Linked DNA regions of Homo sapiens. The protein of the gene in region 1 interacts with the protein of each later gene in a pairwise test. Each region holds a gene or a part of one and is shown in the gene's direction. Other genes may lie near its edges.

Region 1 (5,145 bases):
AAGAGGAGGAGACAGGGGCGGATGGAGTGATGTCAGAGATCACTGGAGACTCCGTGGCTGGAGGGTGGCTGGAGCGGAGACCCTGGAAGGAAGCAGCACTCCCGACACCTGGATCACGGCTTCTAACTTCCAGAAACACGAGTTTGCCTTTTGGGTGTTTCTACCCCCACCCCCGCGTGGTGCTTTACTGCTCCAGTCCCAAGAAATGGGTGCAGGCTCCCCCACCCTGAGAATTCCAGTTAAGACTCTGGAGTCGGAGATGCTTCCTGGAGGGCTCAGTCCTGGAGTCAGAGGAGATGCTTCCTGGAGGGCTCAGTCCTGGAGTCAGAGATACTTCCTGGAGGGCTCAGTTCTGGATTCAGAGGAGATGCTTCCCAGAGGGCTCAGTCCTGGAGTCAGAGATGCTTCCTGGAGGGCTCAGTTCTGGATTCAGAGGAGATGCTTCCCAGAGGGCTCAGTCCTGGAGTCAGAGATGCTTCCTGGAGGGCTCAATCCTGGAGTCAGAGATGTTTCCCGGAGGGCTCAGTCCTGGAGTCAGAGATGCTTCCTCGAGGGCTCAGTCCTGGAGTCAGAGATGCTTCCTGGAGGGCTCAGTCCTGGACTTGGAGATACTTCCTGGAGGGCTCAGTCCTGGATTCAGAGGAGATGCTTCCCAGAGGGCTCAGTCCTGGAGTCAGAGATGCTTCCTGGAGGGCTCAGTCCTGGATTCAGAGGAGATGCTTCCTGGAGGGCTCAGGTCCCTGCAGGAGGGGCCTTGGGCTGACCTTTTAAGTCCTGAAGCTGCCTCCTCCGACAGTTCTTGTCTTCATGATACAGATGCGGGCCCCTGTGGGGGCCGCTGTGATGGAGAGACGGGGCCGCTGCTGCCTCACTGGTGGGAGTCCAGTCCTCGAGGGTCTGGCCAAGTTGGCCTCACCTCCTGCTGCTGCACCTTGGAGCCTGGCTCACTCTGAGCACCTCGGTCCGATCTGCCACCTCTTTGGGTGGCGCCCCGGAGCCTTCTCTGAGCAGCATCTTCCCTGGAGGGGGCGTTGGGACCGTGTGTTTTTTACAAGCGCTGGGACTGGCATGAGATTTGATCCAAGCATTTCTTGTTTCCGCCTTGGATGCATTCAGGATCAGTGTTCCCAGACCAGGCACCCCGGGGCCTTCTCGGCTGCTGGGGAGGGGTGGGGCTGGGGGAAGCTGTCCAGGTCCTTCCTCAGTCGTCCTCACAGCCAGGAGCTGAGGTCACCAATGACAGATGACAGAACAGAGCCTCCAAGAGGGGAACAGGGTTGCCAGAGCGCTCAGGCAGGATGTGGTGGAATCAGGATTTAAAACGAGGCTCTGAAGCCTGGGCCATGCCGGCTTCTAGAGAAGCAAACCATCCAGCGCTTCGGCTGCAGAGAGTGGCTGGCGCCAGCCTCTTGCTGCCTGTCTGGGAGGTCCCTGGCAGCCTCCCAGCCCGAGAACTCTGACCGTCAGGGTTCTGCCCAAGGCCACGTGAAGGCAGGACCATGAAGGAGCCTGGCCATGCGGTGTCCAGTGCCCAGGCCACTTCCGGTGCCATCCGCCCCCGCCCCAGAGGCAGGAGGACTGAGCGTCGGAGGCTGCAGGACGCAGGTGGCTTGAAGGCACAGGAAGAAGCTGCAGGGGCTTCACGAGGACCCGCCCTGCATCCTCACCACGAGGCTTCTAGGAACGTTACCTGCTCAGCAGCTCATTCTAGCTGAGGGTGCCCTCCTGCTGGTGGTGCTGGGAGTCGGGGCCCCTCTAGCGTGGGGTCTCCTGGGCCAGCCAGGCCTGATCTCGGCAGCAGTGGGTGGACGACCTGGTGGGAAAGGCCGGGGCGCCATCGGGGGATGGGGGGGGCCTTGATCCCAGCCTGCTAGGTCCATAGCGTCTAAGGCACAGGAATGCCAGCCCCTTGGAAGTCCCATCCTGGCCAAGGAGGAGGTACGATGTGGGTGATCCGTGGGCATGATTGGGGGCCTCTGATGGGGCCAGGGCTGCCCTCCACACAGGACCCTCACGGGGAGAGAGGTGGTGGGGCTGGGCGTCAGGTGGGTACGTGGATGTCAGCACAGTTCTACACAGACCTTCTCTGGCCCATTCCCTGCTCTGCTCGGGGGACACCCAACCAGCCCAGCCCTGTTTCTGGGGAGTGACCACAGAGAAGCAGTCATTGAGACCTCAGAGTGGCCCACCCACACCCCCGTGTGACAGGAACTCAGACTTGGGAGGGCTGGCCACCCACCCAGAGCTACCCAGCTGTGCCCCAAGCCCCAGGCCAGGGCCATGGCCTCGCTCTGCTCAGCACTGCCTCTTAGACCAGCAAGGAGGAGGACACAGCAGCCCAGCCTGGTGGCGTCGCAGCGTGCCCCGAATCTGCTTGCTAACGTCTCTTTACAAACGGAGGGACTATCTGGTGCCACACCGAGGGTAGCCATGTCTCCCAGACCTTCTCCTGCCAAAAGGTCAGACTGGGGTACAGGCGTCTCCCAGACCTTCTCCTGCCAAAAGGTCAGACTGGGGTACAGGCCAGGAGAATGTCCGAGCGTGAGAGACTCTAAGATGGGCAGTGGCTCTTGGTGTCCGAGCTGGTCTCATGAGGTGGCCGCCCCGGGTAGAGCTCTGAGACCTCCGTCCTCAGAGGGAAGACTCCCCAAATTCCCACAGAGCTCTGCACCATTTTGGCTCGGGCAGGACGGGGATGCTGGGGGCGGGGGTCCCACTGTTCTGTGCTGAGCCTAGGACGCTACTTGAGATGAACGTGTAACTGTTCCCCGGAGGGTAAGAAGCGCCGCGTTCTTGGGTTTCTCCTAATGGAATAAAGTCGGGCATGGCTCCCGTGTCCCTGCGTTGGCAGGAAATGAGATCCCAGTCAATGTTCTTGGTTCTCACCTCCTGCTGGGGGCTCACGGAGCTCCGGAGAAGTCTCGGGGCTAGTCCTACAATGCTGCCCCTCCCTATCCAGGCCTCCGGGTGGGGGCTGATGGGGACTGAGCCACCGGCAGACGACAGGGACTCTGCTGGCTGCAGAGCTGGCCCCTGGGTCCTGTGGTGACCTCCCCTTCCGGGGAGCCCCGCCCTAGGACTTGAAGCCCCAGCAGCCTCGAAAGGTGGGGAGGGAAGTCGGCTCCTGGGCTCTCACGCTGGCCCCGGCACTGGCTGTTTCTCAGCAAGACTGTCCCAGCACCCTGAGACACAGTCCCAGGCGGGTAGGGGTGTTGGCGGCCTTGCTGTGACAGCTCGGCCTCCCCAGACAGGTGGTCAGCTAGGGTGAGGGGCTTCCTCTTACCCTCAGGACAGGCGAGTCAGGGTTGGTGGGACCTGAGTCCACACCCCAGCGTCCTCACGCACTTTCCGAGCCTTGGGTCTCCCTTGTAGCCTGGGAGCTGCTGTCCGCCCTTCCTGTGGTGCCTGGGCCTAGCCAGTCTCCCTCCAAGTGTCTGTGGGGTGGGGACCACGGGGGTCCCACAGAGGGCTTTGGGAGCCACGGTCCCCACTCCCCTCCCTTGCCTGCAGCCTTTCGGTGAGTGGGAAGCGCCTCTGCTGCCCTGAGGTTCCCTCTGGCGCCCTGGCCCGGGGACCGCGGCCTCGCTGTGGAATGTGCTGGGTAACGCCGTCTGGCGTCGTCTTGTGTCCCCATACAGGGCTGGAGTACCAGAGGCCGAAGCGTCAGACCTCCTGTGACGACATCGAGGTGCTGTCCACCGGGACACCCCTGCAGCAGGAGAGCCCCGAGCTGTACCGCAAGGGCACCACTCCCTCCGACCTGACCCCCGACGACAGCCCCCTGCAGAGCTTCCCCACCAGCCCCGCGGCCACCCCGCCGCCCGCGCCCGCCGCCAGGAACAAGGTCGCCCACTTCTCGAGGCAGGTGTCGGTGGACGAGGAGCGGGGCGGGGACATCCAGATGCTCCTGGAGGGCCGGGCCGGGGACTGCGCCCGCAGCAGCTGGGGCGAGGAGCAGGCCGGGGGCTCCAGGGGTGTCCGCAGCGGTGCCCTGCGCGGCGGCCTGCTCGTGGATGACTTCCGCACCCGAGGTTCGGGCCGCAAGCAGCCCGGGAACCCCAAGCCGCGGGAGCGGCGGACGGAGTCACCCCCCGTGTTCACGTGGACTTCCCACCACCGGGCCAGCAACCACAGCCCCGGAGGCTCCAGGCTGCTGGAGCTGCAGGAGGAGAAGCTGAGCAACTACCGGATGGAGATGAAACCCTTGCTGAGGATGGAGACGCATCCCCAGAAAAGACGCTACAGCAAGGGCGGCGCCTGCCGGGGCTTGGGGGACGACCACCGCCCCGAGGACCGGGGCTTCGGGGTGCAGAGACTGCGGTCCAAGGCCCAGAACAAGGAGAACTTCAGGCCGGCCTCCTCCGCGGAGCCCGCCGTGCAGAAACTGGCGAGCCTGCGGCTGGGCGGGGCCGAGCCCCGGTTGCTGCGTTGGGACTTGACCTTCTCCCCGCCCCAGAAATCCTTGCCTGTCGCTCTAGAGTCCGACGAGGAGAATGGGGATGAGCTCAAGTCCAGTACGGTGAGTGGGCGGCCACCAGGCTGGTCCCAGTGGAGGCAACATCCACCTCTCTGCTGACCTGGTGTTTCCTGAGGGTTTCCAGCAAGGTCACTGCTCCCCTGTTCCTCTCCAGGGGTGGAGTAGGGTGGGGGTACAGCCGGGAGTGGTGGCCCTCAGGTCGCTGGGACCCTCCCCTAGGAAGCCAGGTGGGGCAGGTGTCATACCTCTTTCCGTGAGAGGCTGCCCCCAGGTTGTCCAGAAAGCACACGAAACTCCTGGTTTCCAGGCAGCATGGGATCCCTGCGCTCCCCGCAACGTGCTCAACCCCAGCTGCTCCAAGAGTCTGTGCCCCTGGTCAGTAGCCTTGGGCCGTGAGATGACCGCTTGAGTGTCCTGTGTCCTGGATAGGAACCCAGAGGCGAAACAGCTGGGGGCAAGGCTGGCCCTGGGGCTGGGAGTCAGGTCTGGGGTTGGGGGGAGCTGCCAGTCCAGGTTTCTCTCACCCATGGGGGGTGTTGGGGTTGGAGCCGGCTCCCACGTGAGGCCCGCTGTGTGCAACTCACCGTCAGCCTCACCCAGCACCCCCCCCCCAAATTCGTTCCTCCAGGGCAGGCAGCTTGGAGGGAAGAACAGCGTCCCCCTGGGCT
Region 2 (5,145 bases), on another chromosome or scaffold:
GTCCAAATCGGCCTCGTCCAAAGGAGAGGGCTTTGATGTCATGAAGTCGGGTGATGCCCGTGTGGCGCTGATTGGATTTCCCTCTGTGGGTAAGGTCAGTGATGGTCAGTGTGGGCCTCGGGGAGGAAAGCAAGAAGTCATCTTTCAAACAGGTGACCATCCAGGCTCCCCTCGCTGCCTTTCTGCTTAGCTCCAGGGACACAGAAGACCTGGCCTCCCCCAGGGTCAGATCCCAGCCCTTTATCATCCTAACATGGAGGACGCTCTTTCCTCTTGCCAGCAGATGGAGCCCTACTTGGTCTTCCGACTCAGTCATCACACACAAATACTTCTCGAGTGTGTATCTCTAGCGGTGTCATGTGCTGGGCACTGTGCCAGGGACTAGAGACATAGCATGAATGAGACAGAGCTCTGTCCCTGCCCACATAGATCTCCCATTCTTGAAGAGAAAGGACAGTAAATAAGTAATAAGGTGCATCCAGTGGTGAGGAGTGGGGGCTGGTGAGTGACAGGGTGAAGGTCTGCTAGTTACGACAGGTCCCGGCAGGTTTCTCTGGTGAGTGAGTATTTGGGCAGGGGCCTGAAGGAAGTGAGTGAGCTTGCAGAGTCCTGGGTGAGAACCTTCCAGACAGAGGGAACAGTGAGCACAGGCCCTTAGGCAGGTGCTCGCTTGGTGTGTCCAGGGAGGCCCAGGTGGCTCTCTGAGGAGCACAAGGAGGGCAGAAGACAGAGAGGATAGCGGCATATGGGCGGCCGAAAGGACCCTGGCTTGGATTGAAGAATGAAACTGCAGAGTTTTTAGAAGGTTTCTTCGGCCGGGCGCGGTGGCTCACACCTGTAAACCCAGCACTTTGGGAGGCCAAGGTGGGTGGATCACCTGAGGTTGGGAGTTCAAGACCAGCCTGACCAACATGGAGAAACCCTGTCTCTACTAAAAATACAAAATTAGCCAGGGGTGGTGGCGCATGCCTGTAATCTCAGTTACTCGGGAGGCTGAGGCAGGAGAATCGCTTGAACCTGGGAAGCAGAGGTTGCGGTGAGCCGAGATTGCACCATTGCACTCTAGCCTGGGCAACAAGAGCAAAACTCCATCTCAAAAAAAAAAAAAAAAAAAAAAAAAAAAAGAAGGTTTCTTCTGGAAGTTGCTCTGTTTAGCGTATAATCTATATTGGTTTACTTTTTTTTTTGAGATGGAGTCTTGCTCGGCTCACTGCAACCTCTGTCTCCTGGGTTCAAGCAGTTATCAATCAGCCTCCCGAGTAGCTGGGATTACAGGCATCCGCCACCACCCCTGGCTAATTTTTGCATTTTTAGTAGAGGTGGGGTTTCACCACGTTCGCCAGGCTGGTCTCGAACTTCTGACCTCAGGTGATCCGCCCACCTTGGCCTCCCAAAGTGCTGGGATTACAGGTATGAGCCACCGTTCCCGGCGTGATTTACTTTTATGTGAGGAATAAAATAAACATCATTGCAGGGTTTTGAGCAGAAAAGAGATGTCTGATCGGCTCTTTTTTTTTTTTTTTTTTTTTTTGGAGGTATAGTTTCACTCTTGTTGCCCAAGCTGGAGTACAATGGCACGATCTCAGCTCACTACAACCTCCGCCTCCCAGGTTCAAGCAATTCTCCTGCCTCAGTCTCCCAAGTAGCTGGGATTACAGGCATGCACCACCCCGCCCGGCTAATTTTTTGTATCCTTTTTTAGTAGAGACAGGGTTTCACCATGTTGGCAAGGCTGGTTTTGAACTCCTGACCTCAGGTGATCCACCCGCCCTTGGCCTCCCAAAGTGCTGGGATTACAGGCGTGAGCCACCGCGCCCGGCCTAAAGTAAACTTTTTATTTTAGAATAGTCTTAGATTTACAGAAAAATTGCAAAGGTAATACAGAGTTCCCATATACCCCACACCCATTTTCCCTGGCAGTTAACATTTTACACCAATGAATATTGATCTGTTCTTGCCTCAAGTCTGGCTTTATGCAGATTTCCTTAGCTCCTCCCCACTGTCCTTTTTCTGTCCTGAGATCCCACATCACAGTTCAGTTGTTATGTCTCCTTAGGCTCTTCTAGACAGTTCCTTAGACTTGCCTTGATTTGATAACCTTGACGGTTTTAAGGAGTACCATTCCCATATTTTGTAGAAAGTCCTTCAGTTGGGGTGTGTCCAATGTTTTTCTCGTGGTTAATCTGGGGTTATAGTTAGCAAGGAAGGCCACAGAGGTAAAGTGCCATTTTTATCACATCGCATGAAGGCCACATACTGTCAACATGACTTACCCCTGCTGATGTTGATCTTGACCACCTGGCTGAGGTGTGTCAGGTTTCTCCACCGTGGAGACGCTCTCTTCTCCCCTTGCCATGCCGCTTTGGGGAGGGAGGTGACTGTGTGCAGTCCAATTCCATCGCCTCCTTGAGGGGAGCATCTACAGAAACTGTTTGGAATTCTTCTGCATGGGAGATTTGTCTCTCTTCTCCCATTCATTTGTTTTATTCAATCATTTATTGATATCCGTATGGATTCGTGGGGGGTTATTTTGTGCTTTGGGGTCTAAACCCATACCATGTTCTTTTGCTGCTCAAATCTTTTTAGCTTTGGAGCTATTTTAGTTGGCTTCTTTGATGTACTTCCACCATTGTGTTTTTCCAGCACTTCCTCACTTTCTGACACTGCAAGATGCCTCAGGCTCATTTTGTATATTCCCTGCCCTGGCCTAGAATCTGCCATTTCTCTAAGGAGCCCTGGTTCCTTTGATTGGAGAATAGCATTAGAAACTACCATCTGGGCGCTGACTTACTTTTTTACAGAATCACTCTGGCTGTTGTGTAGATAGCAGGTTATAGCAGGGCAAAGTGAAGTGGGACAGTGGAGAGGTTGCTAGAATATAGGCCAAGTGAGCAACAACCAAAGCTCTGGACAGGTGCTGGGGAGCAGCTTCTAACTCAGTTCAGCTGAACAATTTGAGCCCACACCCAGTTTCCATTGCTCTGGGCCAGGCACAGGGGATGGTGGTTAACAGCTACCTTTTCTTGAGTGCTTGCTGCAGGCTGGGCAGTGTTTAGTTTTATTTGTTGTACTGTCTGCCTATATGATTGGTATATGTATCAGAGAGAGAGAGATTGATAGAGAAGCCGCTCTAGTTACCAAGAGCCGTGACCCTTGAAGTCTGGGCCCATGGCAGATCCCACCTGCCTTATTGGGAGTATAGGCTCTCCCACCGTGGGAGGGCCCAGGTCTTACAGGGGCCAGACAGAATCAGGGAGTGGCCCCGAGGTTGGTTGCTGGCTGTCTCAACAGCCATTGCTCTTGGGGCCACCGTGTCTATCCCTATACCTGTCCACTCCACCAGGTTTTTCTCATTTCTTGAGTTTCCAGGAGATCCCCAAGGCTGAGGGTTTCTGGATTTGGGAACTCGATGTATTTCCATCACATGCCACATTCTGGACTTGAGAGGTCTAAGGGTGCCTTGGGGAGGGTGCCCCCAGTCTTCCTGCCAGTCAGCCAGGAGGCAGGGTCTGGATAGCTGGCCCTGCAACTCAGAGTCTCAGGCTTCTCGTTCCTGGGGCCCTGCTGATTAGGATGGGGCAGGAGGCATGGGGCTGGGTTTCTTCCCTCCCTGGGTCTGCCCACTGCTTGGCTGGCCTCAGCCACAGCATCTATCACTGATGTTACAGTGTTTGGAGTGAGGCACATCCCGGGCCTTATCTTTTTAATCCCTGTGCAGTCCTGTGAGGTAGGGACCGGGTTCATGCCCATTCTACATGTAAAGACCCTGAACTGAGAGTATGGAGTTTCCTGCCCAATCCCAGGACACCCCGGCAGAGGCAGGATTCAAAGCCAGGTTTCTCCAACTCCCAGCCACAGTGAACGGTGGTCTGAGTGGTCACATCCACATCTTCCCAGTTCCCCACTCCCTCCCTGCGACACCTCTCCTGTCAGCTGTCTCTGCCTCAGCCCAGGAGGTTGACATCTCCTTGCACACCTCCTTACACCCTCCCTGGGTGCACAGCATGTCTGGGTACTGGTTCCACGAGTGCCGTGGGACTGCCACCTGCTTAAAGTTCTCTGGGGCCAAGAGGGCCTGGAGGATTGTGTGGGGTTAGGAGAGGCTCCTGATGTATATGGGGAACCCCATCAGAATCCAGATCCCTGCCTCTACCTGAGACAGTCCTGAGGCCTCCAAGGAACAGATGGGCCTCTGGTGTCTGACCCATCCAGGACAGGGCCAGAGGTGAGCCCTCTGGCTGGGAGGTCTCTTCACAGCCACCTAGGTCACCAAGCCGAGGGTGAGAGGGTCTCCTCCTGCTGCCTGCACCTGCAGGCCCCCAGCCCCTGGGGCCTCTCCCAGAAGGCCAGGGACAAGGCTCCTCAGTGCAATGATCTCCTTTTCTCCTAGTCCACATTCTTGAGTCTGATGACCTCCACGGCCAGCGAGGCAGCGTCCTATGAGTTCACCACTCTGACGTGTATTCCTGGGGTCATTGAAGTAAGTGGGTGTGCTGGGCCCAGAAGGAGAAGGGGCGCATGCTTGTGTTTGGACTTGTGCCTGTGCCCACCCTGTGTGTGAGTCTGGGTGGATGTCCCCATGTCAGGACAGGCTCTGGACTGAGCTGCTTTGCCCTCCAGCACTGACACTTCTGGGGATCCTAGCTGCTGGACCCCAGAGATGCCTGGTGGGGCCTGGAACTAGGAGGTCAGGCCAGCATGTGGCTACTTTGCCTGGCGCCCCCTGTGCTCTCCTCCCCAACACCACCACAGCTCTGGTCACTAATTGCTGCTTGGCTGGATCCTTCTGCCTCCCCATGAAGCTTCACTGCCTTGGGCTGTGTTTGCTTTGGGCAGCTGAGTGGTATGGCCTTAAGTTCCCATGGTGAAACAATTTATTTGTAAAGTGCTGGTATCATCAGTGATGAGTGTTGTGGGATTGGAAGATCTTGAGCCCTCCCTAGGCGGCTACTCAGCTCATAGGCTGTGGTCTGCACTGGGCTGGGGTGGTGACAAGGCTCAGACTTGGCCACAGGTTGGCATCTGGGTTTCCCTCAGCCCCTGAGCCCCGGGGCCATTCCAGATGTCCCAGATCCAGACAGGACCTTTCCAGTGGAGGCCCAGCCTTGCCTTACCTTTCTTCTCTTCTGCATCCTAGTACAAAGG
Region 3 (5,145 bases), on another chromosome or scaffold:
TCAACAATAATTTACTGTACATTTAAAAATAACTAAAAGAATGTAATTGAATTGTTTATAATACAAAGAAAGGATAAATGCTTGAGGTGATGGATATCCCATTTACACTAATGTAATTATTATGCATTGTCTGCCTGTTATCAAAATATCTCATGTACCTATACGCACCTACTAAATACCCACAAAACTAAAAATTAAAAAAATTCCATGCATAAGTCATGGTTGCCTCTCTAGATGTTTGTTGTGAAAGAATATTGTCCTACTAATTTTGAATTTTTTTTTTCTGAAAGAGATTCTTTTTATTGAAAGTTTCATGTCATAGATCGGCAAAATTGTTTTTTCTTTTGACCTTACACTGCTTCAGAATATATGTTTTGGAGTGATTCCAGCTTGAGGCAAGGAAGTTACCAGATTTTCCTGAATGGAAAGTAATTGCAGATATATTTATAAAAAGGTCCAGCTTTAGCTCTTGAAAGCTTTGAGGAGTTACTGTGGATAAAATCACAAAGCCATAATAGGTTCATACTTTTACCCAGTTGCATTTGGCCTTTAGATTTTTGCCCCATTAGCTTGAGGAGTTACATTCTTAGTTTTTCTTGAACCATCAACGGTGGTGATAAAGGAAGATGATACTCATTTTTAGAAATTCTTAAATATAAGTGTTCCTAAAATTAATTGGATGTTCTTAAAATTAATTGGATGCCTTGTTGGATATCTATAACCTGAATGAAGGAATTCTTTTCTCTTGCTATAGGTGCACATTAAAGATCCAAAGTCATGACTGACTCCAAGTATTTCACAACCAATAAAAAAGGTAAGTATGAGAATACAATCAAATCTTTTGAAATTTTCAAAAGTTGTAGTGTAAGATTGCCCCAGGCAGAATGCTGCTGACCTCTTCCTTCAGACATACATGTAGCTGACAATCTCACTGGACATCTACTACTTCTATAGATGAATGTATTCAAGCAAGTTATTAAAGAGTAGGTTTTAAAAGAGAGGGCTGTGATGCACATTATTATGACTTGAAGGTTCTGTTTAGTGAAAGAGACTCCTCTTTGCTGTTTGAGATGATCCATTGGAGATTGGTTAAGTGTGAGGAGGACAAAAGAAGCAGCATACTTTTTCCCTTTTATTAAATAATTTTTACTTGGAAATAAACATTTTATAACAAAGAATACAATTAAAGCAATACAGATATGTATGTAAAAGGTAAAAATGAAAGTTCTCCCTTCCTGTTCCTATTCCCAAGGGAACTTGGTGTATATCCTCAAGTCTTTTTCTCTGCATATGAGTGCATATATTAATACATATGATTTAAAATTTTTTTATCTTTAATGAAAAAGCAATCTTGCAAAACAATGAATAGAAATGAGTTATTTTCATATCCGTCCATATACATCTACCATGTTCTTCGTCTAGATGTATATTTAAAACGGAATCTCTAGAGCCATCTATGGTTTTTAGGTCATAGACGGAATTACTTGAGGGACTTTGCACTTATTACTCTCATCATCTTTGTTATCAGTAATATAATGCTTGTTTTTACCTATGAGTTTGGGTCTAGGAACAAAGGATTCTTCTGGGGAAAGTCCAACCCTTCATCTTTTGTAAAATTGTTCCTAAATAAAATAGATCATTTCTAGAAATGTGGAGGGTCTTCCCATCAAAGACAAACATTTTAGCCCATCTCAGCTTATTGTGCCTGTAGCTTAGCTTGCTTTATTTGTTGCTTAGGATCAGAATTCTGTGCTTTTGTGTTCAGGAGTCCTTACATTTACCAAAGTATTCCAGACATGGCGCCAACTACCATTCTTCTTTTTCTCTTGTTGCAGTGAGTTGCTTAATTATGTCAGTTTGTTGTCTGTAGCTTTCAGTCTTGGCAACACATCAGAATTGCTCAGCCAGGGAACTTTGAAATAATACTGATGCCTGGGTCTCAACCTCAGCCTGATTTCAGTTGTCCTGGATATGGTCTGGGTGTGAGGATTTTAAAGGTTCTCCAGGTGGCCAGGCATGGTGGCTTATGCCTGTAATCCCAGCACATTGGGAGGCTGAGACAGGAGGATTGTTTGAGTGCAGGAGTTTGAGACCAGCCTGGGCAACATGGTAAGACCCTATCTCTATGAAAAAAAATTTAAAAATTAGCCCTGTACGGTGGTGCACACCTGTAGTCCCAGCTATTTGGGAGGCTGAGGTGGGAGGATCACTTGAGTGCAGGAGGTTGAGGCTGCAGTGAGTCGTGATTGTGCCGCTGTACCCCAGCCTAGGCAACAGAGAGAGACCCTGTCTCAAAAGAAAAAAATTAAAAAGAAAGCTCCCCAGATTATTTTAATGTGCAGCCATGATTGAGAACTACTGCTAGCTGCTAACAGTGCTTGGTAGATTTGATTGGGGGGAGGAGGAGGGAGAAAATATAGGAATTTAATAAAGTTGTAGAATATATGACTTTGCCTCTTTTAGTACCCCTCTTTGGTCCTGCCCAACTTTTTCCTCCTTATTTTTATTACTTACACCTCACAAAAGCCATTAGCCACTTGTCATTCAGTCTCAGCTTTTTCTGATTTTCTTTTGGAAATATGTTTATTTCTTCTTCTGTTAGCATTTTGTGTGCTTTGACGAACAAAATGTCTATAATTATATAAAGGGATACAATTACAATTAAATAGTTATAATTTTAAAACTCTCCTAATTCTTCAAACCTACTCTTGAAAAGTGTCCTGGTGACCTTTTTTTAATTCAGGCATTTGTAAAAGTTTGAGACTGCAGATTGAATCACTGCTAATAAACATCATACTTAAAAAAAATTGATAGATTGTGTTCCCTGTACTTCCTGCAACACCCACCAGAACTGCCACTGAAACATATTCTTTAAATTTATGCTTTTGGAATTGGAATAATTTCTGTTACATCCTGCTTTGATTCTATAACACCTGCTGCTGTTCACAATTCAGACTTTCTGAAACCCCGCCGTTTGTCCTTCACTGTTCCCGGAAGTGAATGAGAGGAACTCTAAGAGCTGGATTTGGCAGGATGGGACATGGTGAAGAGTCCTATGAAGAATGACTCTTTAAAGGGCCCAGCTTTTCTTGCTATGCTACTTTTGTAGCTGTTGATTAAATAGAAATTTTGGAACAATTTTTTTGCCTTATTGGCCATGGATATTGAAACGAAAAAGTGCTCTACTTCTGTGTCTTACTAATTTCATCCTTTCCACATAATGGTTTCAGGCAAATCACGTAGTGTTTGTCCCCACTATTTCTTTCTTTTTTTTTTTTTTGGAGGAGGGGAGGTCAGGTTTTAATGTCCCAGTCCTCGGGCGCCGTCATCCCGCGCCTGCCAGGCCCGGCGGCCATGTCGCTCACTCGGGTGGCGGCCAGCCTGCCTCATCAGGGCCTTCCGCGGAGGCCGCCCCGTCGCCCTCGAGCACCAGCTTCACGTCCAGCTCCAGCTGCCCGGTGTAGAAGCCCACGGCGGCGCACACCCAGAGCGGGCTGGTGGCGAGTACAGCGCCCGCAGCTGCGCCCCCTAGCGTCAGCTGCATGGGCCCCCGCAGCGCTGCCAGGCCCCGCAGGCGCTGCCCCACACCGCACACAGGCCGCCCAGCAGGAAGAAGCCATATGCTGCTTCGTGATCCATGTCACTCTGCATGAAGGAGATAACCCCGATGCCCTATGCCAGGAGGCCATTGTGGAACCAGGAGAAGAAAGCTGTCTCGTGCGCCTTTCGGAGAGGAGCCTGGCGCCTGCACGGTCCAGCTCGGACACAGGTGGCGGCGAAGCCCCGTTGTGGGGGCCGTGGCCGGGGGCGAAGGACCCCTGGGCGCCCCCGCTCCGGGGCCACTGAGGCAGCAGTAGCGACCTCCGGAAGCGGAGACTGTCCCCACTGTTTCTATGCTGGTAAATGAGATCTGGTTGAAAGGAACGACAGGAACAGTCTTGAAGGTGGAGGAAAGTCTTTTGAGGCAGTATGGTAGATGAGCTGGAGGATGTAGATGGAAAGTTGAGATGGGAGTAGTCAACCTCTTTTTCATGGACTTAGTGTTTTTTTTCCGTTTCTTTTAAACAATATTAGGGTTGTTACTTTCTTTTTTATTTTGGTTCCGGCTTCTTGCAGATAGGTGAGCCTGGAGACCAGGCCTTAAAATAGTGGTTACAGTCCCTGACAGTTTACAGTGCGGAGCCTAAGCAGTCATTCAAGATTGTACCTTTGGAAATGACTCCATTGTGTACCATTCTTGGTTTCAAGATTATTCTTGTTTGATTGAATAGCAAGGGCCTTAAAGCCCACTGATTTATTAAAGTACTGATTAAAGTAGTGATTCTCAACATTGGGTGTGCGTTAGAGTCACTTGGTGGAGCTCTTAAAGGTATAAATATGAGTTCTCTTTGACATTATGATTTATTTGGCCCAGAGTGGAGCCTGTACTTTGCTATATTTAGTATTTCTCAGGTAATATTAGTGTGTGGCCAGGGCTGAGAACCTTTGCATTCAAGAGTCAGGAGACACAGTGCTAAGCCCAACTTTGTCACTGACTCTGTGAACTTTGAGCCTCATTTCTTAATCTGTAAAGCCGAGCGTGGGTAAATGAGGTAATACGCGCCTGCTCCCTACCTACGTTTATGTTCTCCTCCAGACTTTAACATTCTGATGGAAGATCATCCTTCATATACTGTTCTCTCCCCATTGTAGCTAGATATAATGAGATTTGGTTTTTCCCACTCTTGTGGTTCTTGAAGATCTGGATTGCACCTTCCTCTCTGGCCATAATTTAAAAGATTTTTAAAACTTACTGATGGCTTCCTTGTCAGTGAGTCAGGTAATATTCTAGGGCTTTGAATTTTATATATTCTATAATTTTAAAATCTTATTTTAGTTGCTGCCCTGCTATCCTGGTATTGGTTATTACATAGTGTAGTATTCTGCTCTAAGTCTGTGGTACTGGAACCTTACCAGTTTGCTCTCATCTCTTGCAGGAGAAATATTTGAACTAAAAGCTGAACTCAACAATGAAAAGAAAGAAAAGAGAAAGGAGGCTGTGAAGAAAGTGATTGCTGCTATGACCGTGGGGAAGGATGTTAGGTAAGAGTAATCACCCTTGCCATTGATCACTTCAGAGGTCCATACCCCATCTTATGGCCTTTA
Region 4 (5,737 bases), on another chromosome or scaffold:
ACGGATTCCCAGTTATATGTTAAAAATAATCCCTTCTGTCCCAGGATACTCATCAAAGTACTGCTATAGTGGAATCTTCCCGGAAACAGACAAATGAAAGCCAGTCTCTCTCAGGGCTAACCATTGTGAAGTCCAACGTGCTGCCCACTTGACTCTGGGCTGGAGCCTGCCTGAGCCCTATAGTTGACCCACTTAGCAAGCACATATAAACCAGTGAGAGACCCTAACCAACTGCCAGTGAGACATTTAAGAAGTTTCATACAAATATTAAATTGCATTTACTTGTCACAGATGGTCATACAAAATGGAAAAGAATAACATATTTAAACAGTCTATTCAAGTCCAAGAGAAATTGAGCATTTACTCTCATTTCATAGTTTGTTAGGAAAGTTTGTAATGAGGGATTTGCAAGTGAACATGGTATGGTGGAAAAAGTGATGAGGATTTTTGAGCAAATTTTCTGCATGTTAGTGCTCTTATTGATTATATACTTATTGGATATTTGAAAGAAAAAGAAGTAAAGCATAAAGCTTGGGTTTATTTAATGCCCTCAGAAGGCTAGGTTGAGGAAAATAATAAAGAAATTTTCCGAGCTACTACCGTTTTGGAGTTAAAACAGATCATGGAGCCTCCATTAACACACAAGATACTTTCTTACTGCTTTAATAAAATAAATGATAAGATTCTGTTAAAACAAACAGAATATAGTTTAATCTACGTGACACCATCATTCTGGTTGGCATAGTAAAACTGATGAATGACTAACAGTACCTACAATTACGCTCTTTTGTACCAATAAAATTTATTTAAGGCTGGGCATGGTGGCTCATGCCTGTACCAGCACTTTGCCAGGCGGAGGTGGGAGGATCACTTGAGGTCAGGAGTTAGAGACCAGCCTGGCCAACAAAGCGAGACCCTGGTCTCTACCCCCCTCCCCCAAAAAAAATGCTGGGCATGGTGGTATGTGACTGTAGTCCCAGCTACTCAGGAGGCTGAGGCAGGATTGCTTGAGCCAGGAGTTGCAGTCTGCAGTGAGCTATGATGGTGCCACTGCACTCCAGCCTGGGTGACAAATTTATTTAATTGGTTTTGGTTTGATTTTGTATTATTATTACTAAAACTCCAGAAAACTTTTACAGCAAAAAAAAAAAACAACAAAAAACAAAAACAAGAAAGAAAGAAAAGGAAAGGAGGATGGGAGAAAGGCAGGAAGGGAGGGAGGAAGGTAGGAAAAGAGGAAGGGAGGGAGGAAAGAAGGCAAGCACGCAGGCAGATGCCTAAATAAAGAATACATAGGGGCCTGGACAAATAAATTGCTTTATGGACTGTTATGCACCCATACAATAAGTTAGACTTACATGATGAGTAAAGCTTTTTAGGATACATGAAGTGAAAACGTTAAAATAAGCGGGGGAGAAAAGGCTAAATATAAAATAATGCCATTGTGTGTGTGAGAGAGGATCACAATGATATACAAATTCCAGGCTAACGGTGACAGTGGCTGCCTCGGGGAGTGGGACTAAGGAGGGGTAGGTGGGGTTTGACATTTTACTTTATTAATTTTGGTATTGTCTGAGGGTTTTTAAACCATAAATAATGTATTAATTTTAAAAATGCTTTTAAAAATCATCATTTTCAATAGTTAACGGTCTATGCTTCATCAACGTTTTCCGTTTAAAACCTGTGTGCGGCCCACACACGTATGACATTCTGATTATGTGATTCACTGCTGAAAAAGAACTGGACGCCAGGAAATTGGGGGTTGAGTCCGAAGCAAGGTGAACGCCGGACATCGAGACATGGAATCCTAGACCGGCCCGGAAGTGCCTCTGCTCCGTCCGCCTTCGAGGAGAGGTCGGCATCTTTGTTCCCTGCCCGGCCATTGTTCGTGCCGCGCTTCTAGCAACGCCGGGCCGGTAACCCCCTCTCCCTCCTTGCGCGTTCCGGGTCTCGTGAGTTGGCTGTGGGGACCGGGAATGGAGGCGGGTCAGGGAGGGTGGGGCTGGAAAAGGGGTGTGGAAAGTGAACCTCAGCCGCTGGGAAGTGGGAGCCGGAGGAGGGGGCGGCGGTCAGTGCCGGGCGGCTTCGGGCGTCCCCTAGACCAGAGTGGTCATCCCCAGCTGTGGGGACATTGTACAAGAAAGGGTTGTAGGAGGACTGCGAGGCTGAAGGGTCACCTCGGTGAATAACGACAACAGGCTTAGGACTCAGGGAAAGAAACACCCGGGAGAGGAAGTTAAGGACAATTAAGACTTTGGCAGCCTTCACGATGGAGAACCTGTATACCCTCTTACCTCTAGATTCTGAAAGCAAATTAAGGGGCGTTGAATGGACTGGTTTTCAAGCGCAGAATGTAGCAGTTCCCGATTCCCTTTTCCTTAGTTCATTGATTCTCAAACCTTATAATACATACAAATCACTGAGGAGCCCGTTAAAGGGCATATTCTGGGTCTCCCTGTACTTCTCTCCACCTCCCAATTCAGATTCCCCAGATGTCTGCCATAGGGCCTTTCAAGCTGGAATTCAGCTGCTGCGCTGTGCTTCCTGGCATTTTGGAGACACACATTTTGGGAACACCCCCATGGGTTTCAGGTGCTTCCTGCGTCTGTGGAGAAAACTTTTCCCTTGGGCTTCTTTGGCTTCTTAGGATTGTCCTCAAAAAGAAGTTGACCTTGGGCAATCTACTTAACTTTCCCTGGCTTCCATTTCTTATCTAGTGAAATAATTATTATAATAAAACCTCAGTGGGTAATTGTGAGGATGAAATATAGTCTTGTATCTGAAAGCATATTGTAGACTTGTGCAGTGTTGACTGTTATTCTTCAGTAGCAGCAGGGCGGTGTGGAAAGCTCCAGGACTTGGAATCCACCTAAGCCTTTCTTTCTGTAAATTTAGTGAAAATAATACTAACCTTAAATGGTTGTTTTGAAGATTAAGAAAACTGAAGTAAATAGTAAAGTAAATGTTGGTTCGTTCATTTAGTCGACAGTAACAATATTTCCATTTATTCTTTCTCTAAGTTGATGTTTATACAGTGAGTTCAAACTTTTTATTCAGACTTTCTGAGTGATCGGTGCAGTCCCTAATTCATGGGCTGTTTTCCTCCATGAACTCTGTGAAGCATTATTGCTATTTCTTCTTCACATAAAGAAATCAAGATTGAAAGAAGATTTAAAAACTTGGCACAAGGTCACACAACTAGTAAATATTAGGATCAGAATAAAACCTAGGTCTGGGTCAGCTGTGGTGGCTGACGTAATCCCAGCACTTTGGGAAGCCAAGGTGGGAGGATCACTTAAACCCAGGAGTTTGAGGTTGCAGTGAGCTGTGATTATGCCACTGCACTCCAGCCTGGGAAACAGAGTGAAATTCCCCATTTAAAAAAAAAAGAAAGAAAGAAAACCCATATCTGGGTAACTTAAAAGCTTATGCTCTTAGCACATTATGAATATATATATTTCCATTATTTCCATCCTTTGGTCACCAAATCACTTTTCAGAGAAGAGCTTTAGGGCCTATGATAATTGCTTGTATTATCAGTTTCTGTCATCAGCTATTATCATTTTTCTATATAAATAATTTATTTTTACTGCTTAGGCAAGCGCCTCCAAGGTTTGTCTTGAAGCATAGCTCCAGCTGGAGGGTACCTTTTAAGCTGTTCAAGGTCAAGATGAATACAAACTCAAAGGAGGTTTTATCCCTGGGTGTTCAAGTTCCCGAGGCATGGGAAGAACTTCTGACAATGAAAGTGGAAGCAAAAAGTCACCTTCAATGGCAGGAATCCAGACTGAAACGCAGTAATCCACTGGCAAGGGAAATCTTCCGAAGGCACTTTCGACAGCTGTGCTACCAAGAGACCCCTGGACCAAGGGAGGCTCTTACTCGACTCCAGGAACTTTGCTACCAGTGGTTGAGGCCACATGTGAGCACAAAGGAGCAGATTTTGGATCTGCTGGTGCTGGAGCAGTTTCTATCCATTCTGCCCAAGGAGCTCCAGGGCTGGGTGAGGGAACACTGTCCAGAGAGTGGAGAAGAGGCTGTGATTTTGCTGGAGGATCTGGAGAGAGAGCTCGATGAACCACAACATGAGGTAGGAAGGGAGATTTGCTAGAGAAAAATGTGTATTTTGGCATGCCAAGAATCCTTGTCACTTCTGCTTTGTGTCTCCTTGACATTGGTGATAAAATACTCTCTTCCTGTTTCCTTCTTTCTTGGAAGTGTTTATTTCAGACAGTTAATTTCTTCAAAAGTCAAATCTTGTCTTTTTGTCCCCAGATGGTGGCCCACAGACACAGACAAGAAGTCCTCTGTAAAGAGATGGTGCCTCTAGCAGAGCAGACACCACTGACCCTTCAGTCCCAGCCTAAGGAGCCACAGCTCACATGTGACTCTGCTCAGAAGTGCCATTCTATTGGAGAGACAGGTGAGGGACAGCATTTATTTGATGTTGAACGAATCCCACCTGGTCAAGCAAAAACAAACAATAAACCCAGAGCTGGGAAAACAGGAGACCCAAAGACTCCTTACCAGATAGCAGTAATGGTCAGTTCTTCTGAGAGCCTAGTGTGCTCATCTTTGACCCTTCTCCCTGCGTGCAGACTTCTCCCTGAGTACCACCCTGGAAGCTTTCTGGACTTCTGATGCATGGTACATGAGGAAGGCTTTCAGGGATCGCTGTGGAGCACAGCTTCAGAGAATGGACTTCAAGGTTTGACAGACAGGTTCAGATCCTGGCATCGCCTCATGGAAGCTGCTTGTATTGGGCAGATTACTTAACCACTTGACCTCAGATCCCTCATCTACAAAATGGGGTTGATAATAGCTTTGGTTTAGTCTACTTGCGCTGCCTTAAGAGAATACCACAGACTGGTTGTCTTTAACAGAAATTTATTTTCTCACATTTTCAAAGGCTAGTAGTCCAAGATCAAGATACCATCAGGTTTGGTTTCTGGTGAGGCCTCTTCCTGGCTTATAGATGGCCATCTTCTTGCTGTATCCTCACATGGCCTTTCTTCTGTATGCATACAGAGAGAGAGCAAGCTCTCTCATCTTATAAGGACAGATACCATTCCTACCCGATAGGGCCCTTCCTTATAACCTCATTTAACTTTTAATACCTTCCTCAAGGCCCTATCTCCAAATATAATCATATTGAGGGGTTAGGACCTCAGCATATGTGAGGGAATACAATTTAGTCCGTAACCAGTATGTACCTCAGAAAGTCATTGTGAGTATCAAATACAATTTATGAAAAGCACTTGGCATGCATTATGCTTAATACATGGTCACTATTGTCACAAATCACCAGTGCCACCCTTGCTGATTTGGGTTCATACTTGGAGTAGAAAGATATCAGATATGCTTAGTAAGTGGCAGAACTGTATGGGAGAATCCAGTGAAATCAGACTTTGCCATTTCCTTCTCTGTAATCTTCTGAGTGGTGGCAGTGACCACCCTTGTGGATATAGTACTGAGCACTTGGGACTGAGTCAGCTGCTTTCCCATTCTAGCCCTCCCTGCAGGAATTGGCTCTAGCTTGTCTGATTTCCCACACATAAAATCATGCCCTCTTACTGACTTTTTGTTAATGTTCTGACAATCAATCTGTAGCAAGGTTCTACTGTTTTCAGTTTCATATTACCCCTATATGCATCAAAGCTGCAACTTCCCTTGCCTCTTTGTCCCTAGGTTCTGTTTATTTCATTTACCCTAGCAATTATGGATTTCTATTACATGG

Evidence for each region. Proteins that work in one complex are often made in the same cells at the same time.
Region 2: the proteins of JPH3 (region 1) and DRG2 interact in binary tests that used the Homo sapiens proteins (3 or more experiments, as listed by UniProt).
Region 3: the proteins of JPH3 (region 1) and AP2B1 interact in binary tests that used the Homo sapiens proteins (3 or more experiments, as listed by UniProt).
Region 4: the proteins of JPH3 (region 1) and ZSCAN9 interact in binary tests that used the Homo sapiens proteins (3 or more experiments, as listed by UniProt).

Annotation. Positions count from the first base shown.
Region 1 is NC_000016.10:87,686,008-87,691,152, forward strand, and holds part of JPH3 (junctophilin-3), read left to right. Parts: intron 1-3,638; coding exon 3,639-4,519; intron 4,520-5,145. UniProt on the Homo sapiens protein: Junctophilins contribute to the formation of junctional membrane complexes (JMCs) which link the plasma membrane with the endoplasmic or sarcoplasmic reticulum in excitable cells.
Region 2 is NC_000017.11:18,093,880-18,099,024, forward strand, and holds part of DRG2 (developmentally-regulated GTP-binding protein 2), read left to right. Parts: coding exon 1-94; intron 95-4,390; coding exon 4,391-4,480; intron 4,481-5,137; coding exon 5,138-5,145. UniProt on the Homo sapiens protein: Catalyzes the conversion of GTP to GDP through hydrolysis of the gamma-phosphate bond in GTP. When hydroxylated at C-3 of 'Lys-21' by JMJD7, may bind to RNA and play a role in translation.
Region 3 is NC_000017.11:35,593,254-35,598,398, forward strand, and holds part of AP2B1 (AP-2 complex subunit beta), read left to right. Parts: intron 1-754; 5' UTR 755-777; coding exon 778-814; intron 815-3,279; exon of another isoform or gene 3,280-3,877; intron 3,878-4,976; coding exon 4,977-5,082; intron 5,083-5,145. UniProt on the Homo sapiens protein: Component of the adaptor protein complex 2 (AP-2). Adaptor protein complexes function in protein transport via transport vesicles in different membrane traffic pathways.
Region 4 is NC_000006.12:28,223,415-28,229,151, forward strand, and holds the start of ZSCAN9 (zinc finger and SCAN domain-containing protein 9), read left to right. Parts: upstream 1-1,860; 5' UTR 1,861-1,952; exon of another isoform or gene 1,953-2,269; coding exon of another isoform or gene 2,270-2,592; exon of another isoform or gene 2,593-3,517; coding exon of another isoform or gene 3,518-3,670; coding exon 3,671-4,090; intron 4,091-4,275; coding exon 4,276-4,423; coding exon of another isoform or gene 4,424-4,641; exon of another isoform or gene 4,642-5,737. UniProt on the Homo sapiens protein: May be involved in transcriptional regulation.